2 separate regions of the Homo sapiens genome follow, and region 1 is linked to region 2. The links come from fine-mapping of genetic effects on gene expression. A gene starts in region 2. The other region holds a variant in brackets. All regions are shown on one strand. Distances are between the middles of the regions.

The links. PIP is the estimated chance that this variant, and not a neighbour inherited with it, causes the effect.
Region 1: its variant is the best candidate, but not a certain one, in a credible set for the expression of LINC02527 in sun-exposed skin (GTEx, PIP 0.60).

What each region holds. Positions count from the first base shown.
Region 1 is chr6:111,724,991-111,729,386 of GRCh38, reverse strand. All of the region lies in intron 3 of FYN (FYN proto-oncogene, Src family tyrosine kinase), which reads left to right. Among named protein-coding and RNA genes, the nearest start is that of TRAF3IP2, 120 kb to the right of the region's middle. The variant A/C (reference allele first, on the strand shown) is at 2,016.
Region 2 is chr6:111,906,615-111,911,010 of GRCh38, reverse strand. LINC02527 (long intergenic non-protein coding RNA 2527) reads left to right here and starts at 1,614. Exons shown (of 3, transcript NR_149099.1): 1 at 1,614-2,085. RefSeq lists an enhancer at 2,217-2,903.

The DNA.
Region 1 (4,396 bases), 180 kb after region 2:
TTCTCATGCCTCAGCCACTCGAGTAGCTAGGTTTACAGGTGCCTGCCACCACACCCATCTAATTTTTGTATTTTTAGTAGAGTTGGGGTTTCACTATGTTGGCTAGGCTGGTCTTGAACTCCTGGCCTCAAGTGATCCACCCACTTCAGCCTCCCAAAGTGCTGGAATTACAGGTGTGAACCACCACACCTGGCCGAGTATGCCCATTTTTAAGAATTTTTTATATTGCCAAATTGGTTTACCAAATGGTTTTACACTGATTTCTGGTCTTCTATCAGCAATGTAAGAGAGTCATATTCATTTCAAGGAAACTTCATCACTATTGAGTATACTTATTTTTTTAATGTGTGAATTTAGAAGTGATACATAGTATCTCACTAATCTAAATTGTATTTCTCTGATTACTACCAAAGGCAATATTCTCCCATATGTTTCACAAATTGTTTTTCCTTTTTTTGTTGCCAATATATGTTTCTGTTTCCTAAACTTAGAGTTTCTCTTATCTGTATAAATTTCTTATATATTGAAATATTAATCTAAGAGAGTTGAAAACATATCTCCACAGAAAAACTTGAGCATGAATGTTTGTTGCAGTATTATTCATAAGAGCCAAAACGTAAAAACCCAAATGTCCATCAGTTGATGAATAGATAAACAACATCTGGTATATCCATACAGTAGAATATCTTTTAGCCATAAAAAGGAATGAAGTACTAATACATGTTACATGAATGAACCTGGAGAACATTATACCAAGCAAAGGAAGCCAATCACAAAAGACCACATATGATGTGACTCTGTTGATATGAAATGTCAAGAATAGGCAAATCCATAGAGACAGAAATTAGATTCGTGGTTGCCAGGGGCTGGGGAGAGAAGGGAGTGGGTAGCGATTGCTTAATGGGCATGGGTTTCTTTCTGGAGCAATGAAAATGTTCTGGAATTAGATAATGGAAATGGTCTCCTTTGTAAATGTACTAAAAACCATTGGACTGTGTGCTTCAAGAGGGTGAATTTTATGGTATATGAATTATATCTCACTTTAAATGAAATTTTAAAAATATTAACTACAAGGGGCTTTTCTATGGTCCAAAAAGGCTTGCGGGCAGGGGGTGGAGCCTGAAAAAACTTTACAACCTGTGCTCTAATTCTTTCTGAAACCTTTGGCATAGATGGGGTTAAAACATATCATCCTTGTTTTCATCACCATTTCACTCTTGTCTTAACCCTGAGATCCAGAGCAAAATGAATTTAAGAAGAAAATGTTCTTACTCTTTTCTTGGAGCCTTTCCATGGTTTGGTGTTAAAGCCTCATTTGGCCATTTAGGTTTGGGACTGGTTCCAGCATTCAGTTGACTGCAGTCTTAAATCTCACCACTGGGGTCTGATGCTTCCATTTCTCTTTTATTGAGCGCTTTTGAGTCTTCGGGCTCGAGAAATGGAAGGCTATGCAGAAAGGAAAGAACATGTTTGTTGCAGGGATGTGAGCAGCTGCCTCTTAGCCTGGGGGCCATTTGAACAAGAAAAGCCAGAGATGGGGACCCACAAAAATATTCTAGGTGCCAGCAGTATGGCTTATTCTTAAAGTAACATGACATTTTTAAGAGTGATTTATATTACTTTGGTTCCCTTGCTGTGCGGTATGAGAGAAGGTTGATCCTCTTCCCCCTCCAGAGAACCTTTGCAAAGTCATGCGTAAATGATCGAATGGGTTCAACTCCACTTATTTCTGAAGCAAAGCTTGGGTTTGATTTTTAAGTAGGCTCTGTTCTCCCATGATTGCATGTGGCTAGTGTCTGCATTGTGTATATTCCCACTTTTACATCTATCTTCTCACCTCAGAGACTGTAATATTTTAATACTTGCATTTGGCGAGGGGCTCTCCCTCACAGGCTTCACCAAGAGTAGAAAGCTGTTATTTTGTGCTTGGTGGAGGCATTATATGTGTATCTCAGTTTATGCAGTAAATATGTTCCAGAAAGTTTTGCCTGTAAAGCAAATCATATTTTAAGTGC[A/C]ATAGGAAAGCTGATTTTTATACCAAGGAAACCAGTGCCAACTCCTTCATGGTACTTATGAATACCCTTGCCATGACTAGGAAAGATGAGGAAATTAAGGGCTGCTTCAGTGTCATCGGCCCAAATAGTCATTAATATGCCAAACCGCACGAAGGAAGATGGTGACTCACTGCACCTAGTATGGTCCAGCATCTCTACAGAATCCACTGTCTTGGGGGAATGGAATGTGCATTGGGGATGGAGGTGAGACCTAGTCCCTGAAATCAGTGCCTCCGTTAGTAATGTATACTAGTCCATTCTCACACTGCTGTGAAGAAATACCTGAGACCGGGTAATTTATAAAGGAAAGAGGTTTAATTGACTTGCAGTTCCGCATTGCTGGGAAGGCCTCAGGAAGCTTACAATTATGGCAGAAGGCAAAGGAGAAGCAGGCACCTTCTTCACAGGGCGGCAGGACGGAGTAAGTGCAAGCAGTGGAAATGCCAGATGCTTATAAAACCAACCATCAGATCTCATGAGAACTCACTCACTATCACGAGAACAGCATGAGGGAACTGCCCCCATAATTCGATTACCTCCACCTGGTCCTGCCCTTGACACATGGAGATTATAGGGATTACAATTTGAGGTGAGATTTGGCTGGGGACACAACCAAACCATATCATAATGTGTGAGATATTGAGCTCTGTGGAACCAATTCTTCCCTATAGGATTTTTCCCTCAACACCTCCAGCCCTCACACCCACACCCTTGCATGGACTGGCCAGGATTCCATGGTCAGGAAATAGCTCTAGTATAGAGACTCTGTGTGTTGGCCATGGAATCAGGCTATCTGGTTTCAAATCCCATCTCTATGACTGACATAGCTGTGGACAAATTCCCCAACCCCTCTTTTCCTCCCTTGTAAAGTGTGGGGAAATAGTAATACCTGTGTTTTAGAGTTGTTACTAGATTTTAATGGGACAGCATTTTGCAGAGTCCAGCCTGCACCTAGGCTACAGGGAACACTGATTGGATATTGGTCATGACTGCTGAAATTGGAGCCATCATCCCCATGGTGCCCATCCCACCAAAACATGTATTAGTTTTCTGCTGCTGCCTAACAAAGTACTACAAACTTAGTAGCTTAAAACAACATCCATCTGTTAGCTCACATTTCTGTCAGTCACAAATCCAGGCACGGAGGGGATTCTCTGCTCAGCAAAGCCGAAATCAAATGTTAGCTGATTATGTTGTTGTTTGAAGGCTTGACTAGGGAGGAATCCATTTCCAGGTTCATTCAGGTTCTTGACCGAGCTGTTCTCAGCTCTGACCACCCATGTGTCTGGCCACATAGCCCCTTCATCTTTAAAGGCAGCTGTGGAGAATCTCCCCCACAATGAAGGCCTCTCTCACTTTTAATCTACTTTTCCAGGAACTGGCATACCGTTCACGGGTTCACCTGATTAGGTCAGGTCCACCCAGGATGATCTCTCAAAGTCGGCTGTGCCAAATAACAACCCGATGATGGAGTGACTACCCCATCATTCATAAATCCTAGGGATTTGCAGGGCACATACACCGGGAGTAGGAGTCCTGGGGGACAGCTCAGAATTCTCCCTACCACAATGTCATTTAGCAAGGCACATATTTTCACTCCCTCCAGTTGGCAGCAAAGAGAGGACTTTCCCACATTGGCAGAGTCCTGCATGCTTTTTTTCATAGCTGGGCTGGGGCCATTGGCTGAACCCAGCATCAGTGCTGAAAGTGTTTCATCCCTCAAGTATTAACATCTCCAGAGGGCCAACCCAGCAGTGACTTTTTCTCTGCTTCAGTACCTTGGGAAATGCTTGTGATCCCAAGAGTGGCCAGCATAGCCCTGCTTTCTGTCCAGCCTCCCCAGTCCTCCCTGGCCCTTCTGTCCCGTCTGTCCCCAGAAGGCAGCACTGCCTGCACTCTCTCATGGGGTGTCAGGATCATCTGATGCAGTATGCTACAGAGGAGAAAAGCCCCATTGTAAAGGATTGAAAGGTGCTGGGAAATTAGGAAATTTGGGTGACAGTTTCTGTGGCCCAACCTCATTGCTGCTGATGTGGTACTCAACTGTCTCTGAATGTCCTTCTGCTCCCAGTAATGACAGGGGAAAACTAAAGAAGGCTTTCCTAGGCTTTCAATGGATTAACTCTCTCCACTGAGAATGTAGCAAAAGTCCCCAAGTAGATTCTTATGGGTGTTTCTAATTTTGCGAGGATCAAGAGCCCTCTGCCATGAATCTTCTATCCTGAAGTCAAATAATTTCAGATGTGTCTCTGCCACATCTTATCCTTTTCCTAATGCTATTCCTGCTGACTGAAAAAGTGTGTTTGCTTGATAAGCTTCCAGTTTTTGCTTTTTTCCGAGAA
Region 2 (4,396 bases):
TCGCTGTGCAATGCTGTTATATTTTTTCACTTCGTGTTATTTAAAATATGCTCTCTGCTCTCTCATATGTCCATATCGTCAATATACCTACCATTTTTCATGCCAAAATATTGAATCAATGTAGCAATTATACCTATGTTACCAATTATAGGACATTTTCATGACTTCCAGTTGGTTTTGTGTTTGTTGTTGTTTTGTCACACAAATAGAATAGCTATAAACGTCCTAGTGCAAATAAGCATTTCTTTCTTCTAAGAACTTCTTTAGAATAAATTGTCAAACATGCGACTATCAGAGCAAGGACCATGGCCAATCTGGTGGCTCCTATGTGAACTATATTCTCTCCAGGAAATTCTCTAATCATCAAGGTATCTACATCATTTAATGATGCTATTTTGTCCTCAGCTCTGCCAAATATAAATTTCTACAACATTTAATGGTTTCTAATTTACTGGGGATATGGTGATATGAACTAAATCACTTGAGTCTGAATATATTTAAATGTTTTTTAAGCAGAACATCATTGATGTTTATTTACTATTTATGTTTTTAATCCCTTTGAGTCATATATCCATTCCTATTTTGCAATCTGACTACAATTAGAAACTGCTGTTGTAAATTTACACCAGTTCCTCTTATCTTCTGAACCCCAAATGTGTATCTTATCATTTTTATTATGAATGATCTTCCTTTCTGTTGCTTTTCTTCCCCCTGCTCCCTCCTTAGGGGTGCTCAAATGAAAGAGAAAAGTTTAAAAAGCAACATTTGTTAGAAGACATAATGATGCACATTTCTGCTCAACTGGGAGTACATTGTCTGCTGGGGCCAAGGTCTGGGAGGTATGTTTCCTATTAGAAGAAGCAGGTTCCTAGGTTCTCTCTGCTGCCCACAGAAATGGCAGGACTTGGAATGCAGGGGCAGCACAGTGTGTACTCAAGACAAAAGACAAGTAAAGGAAGCAAGATACTGTGCCCAGGCCATTCTAAGGGCCTACTGGCAGGCATTTTTCAGACCATATAGGTGGACTCCTAGTTTTCCATGGGATGCATTCCTAAAAAAGCATTTTCATTTGAATGTCTGAAAATCACACATTGGGATACATGTTACGGATTTATGGATTGGGGGAAGGCTGAAAAAACATTGTGAATCCCTAATTATTGGGTCCTTAGATACTGCTTATCTCAGGCCTGAGCCACTCAGTGAACAGAAGAGAGACTATTGAGCCCAACAACTTCTCCTCCTTTGTATTAGGTTGGTGCAAAAATAACTGTAGTTTTTTGCCATTAAAAGTAACAGCCAAAACCACAATTACTTTTGCACCAACCTAATACCCCTTCTCTGATCCATTTACAGGCCCCCTGCAGAAGGTCATGATGCCCTCAGTCTTTACACTTGAACTCTGGGACTCTCTAGTTACCTGGAGAAGAGGTGGCACTGTTTTCTAACATGGAGACAGACACAACACAAACAAACATATAAAAGCTAAAATCTGAAAAAGCAAGTAAATAAGCATGATAATTACCAACTTATGCAATAAAGGATATAGGCAAGGTGACGTCAGAAAGAGTAATTTGGAGGTGGTGCTATTTAAGATAACATCATCAGGGAGGCCCTCCCGGAGACGGGGACATTTGAGCTGAGATGCAAAAGATGGTAGACACACAAAGAGCAGAGAAGGGTATGCCAGGAAGAGGGAGCAAGCCAAGACCCTCCAGCTAGTGGAGAGTTGGGGCCTGCAGGAACTGAAAGGCAGGAGGGCAGAAGGGCAGAGGTGCAGGAGGGCAGAAGGGCAGAGGTGCAAGCAGGGGCCACCTCCTGGATGAGTTTAGAGACCATGGTGAAGCCAAGTTAAAAGACAGACATTATAGAAATATGATTGGACAAAGCAGGATTTAAAATGCTGTTTAAACAATGCTATTTTCTGTTGTGTCTGCTGTATTCTATATTACATTGCATTTAACTATAAAGATATTTTAGAGAGCAGGGGAGTGGAGGAGCCAAGATGGCCGAATAGGAACAGCTCTGGTCTACAGCTCCCAGCGTAAGCGACGCAGAAGACAGGTGATTTCTGCATTTCCATCTGAGGTACTGGGTTCATCTCACTAGGGAGTGCCAGACAGTGGGCGCAGGTCAGTGGGTGCGCGCACCGTGCGCGAGCCGAAGCAGGGCGAGGCATTGCCTCACTTGGGAAGTGCAAGGGGTCAGGGAGTTCCCTTTCCGAGTCAAAGAAAGGGGTGACGGACTCACCTGGAAAATTGGGTCACTCCCACCCGAATATTGCGCTTTTTGGACCGGTTTAAAAAAACGGCGCACCACGAGATTATATCCCGCACCTGGCTCGGAGGGTCCTACGCCCACGGAGTCTCGCTGATTGCTAGCACAGCAGTCTGAGATCAAACTGCAAGGCAGCAGCGAGGCTGGGGGAGGGGCACCCGCCATTGCCCAGGCTTGCTTAGGTAAACAAAGCAGCGGGGAAGCTCGAACTGGGTGGAGCCCACCACAGCTCAAGGAGGCCTGCCTGCCTCTGTAGGCTCCACCTCTGGGGGCAGGGCACAGACAAACAAAAGGACAGCAGTAACCTCTGCAGACTTAAATGTCCCTGTCCGACAGCTTTGAAGAGAGCAGTGGTTCTCCCAGCACGCAGCTGGAGATCTGAGAACGGGCAGACTGCCTCCTCAAGTGGGTCCCTGACCCCTGACCCCCGAGCAGCCTAACTGGGAGGCACCCCCCAGCAGGGGCACACTGACACCTCACACGGCAGGGTATTCCAACAGACCTGCAGCTGAGGGTCCTGTCCGTTAGAAGGAAAACTAACAAACAGAAAGGACATCCACACGAAAAACTCATCTGTACATCACCATCATCAAAGACCAAAAGTAGATAAAACCATGAAGATGGGGAAAAAACAGAACAGAAAAACGGGAAACTCTAAAACGCAGAGCGCTTCTCCTCCTCCAAAGGAAAGCAGTTCCTCACCAGCAACGGAACAAAGCTGGATGGAGAATGACTTTGACGAGCTGAGAGAAGAAGGCTTCAGACGATCAAATTACTCTGAGCTACGGGAGGACATTCAAACCAAAGGCAAAGAAGTTGAAAACTTTGAAAAAAATTTAGAAGAATGTATAACTAGAATAACCAATAAAGAGAAGTGCTTAAAGGAGCTGATGGAGCTGAAAACCAAGGCTCGAGAACTACATGAAGAATGCAGAAGCCTCAGGAGCCGATGCGATCAACTGGAAGAAAGGATATCAGCGATGGAAGATGAAATGAATGAAATGAAGCAAGAAGGGAATTTTAGAGAAAAAAAAAAAAAAGAAATGAGCAAAGGCTCCAAGAAATATGGGACTATGTGAAAAGACCAAATCTACGTCTGATTGGTGTACCTGAAAGTGATAGGGAGAATGGAACCAAGTTGGAAAACACTCTGCAGGATATTATCCAGGAGAACTTCCCCAATCTAGCAAGGCAGGCCAACGTTCAGATTCAGGAAATACAGAGAATGCCACAAAGATACTCCTCAAGAAGAGCAACTCCAAGACACATAATTGTCAGATTCACCAAAGTTGAAATGAAGGAAAAAATGTTAAGGGCAGCCAGAGAGAAAGGTCGGGTTACCCTCAAAGGGAAGCCCATCAGACTAACAGCAGATCTCTCGGCAGAAACCCTACAAGCCAGAAGAGAGTGGGGGCCAATATTCAACATTCTTAAAGAAAAGAATTTTCAACCCAGAATTTCATATCCAGCCAAACTAAGCTTCATAAGTGAAGGAGAAATAAAATACTTTACAGACAAGCAAATGCTGAGAGATTTTGTCACCACCAGGCCTGCCCTAAAAGAGCTCCTGAAGGAAGCGCTAAACATGGAAAGGAACAACCGGTACCAGCCGCTGCAAAATCATGCCAAAATGTAAAGACCATCGAGACTAGGAAGAAACTGCATCAACTAACGAGCAAAATAACCAGCTAACATCATAATGACAGGATCAAATTCACACATAACCATATTAACTTTAAATGTAAATGGACTAAATGCTCCAATTAAAAGACACAGACTGGCAAATTGGATAAAGAGTCAAGACCCATCAGTGTGCTGTATTCAGGAAACCCATCTCACGTGCAGAGACACACATAGGCTCAAAATAAAAGGATGGAGGAAGATCTACCAAGCAAATGGAAAACAAAAAAAGGCAGGGGTTGCAATCCTAGTCTCTGATAAAACAGACTTTAAACCAACAAAGATCAAAAGAGACAAAGAAGGCCATTACATAATGGTAAAGGGATCAATTCAACAAGAAGAGCTAACTATCCTAAATATATATGCACCCAATACAGGAGCACCCAGATTCATAAAGCAAGTCCTGAGTGACCTACAAAGACACTTAGACTCCCACACATTA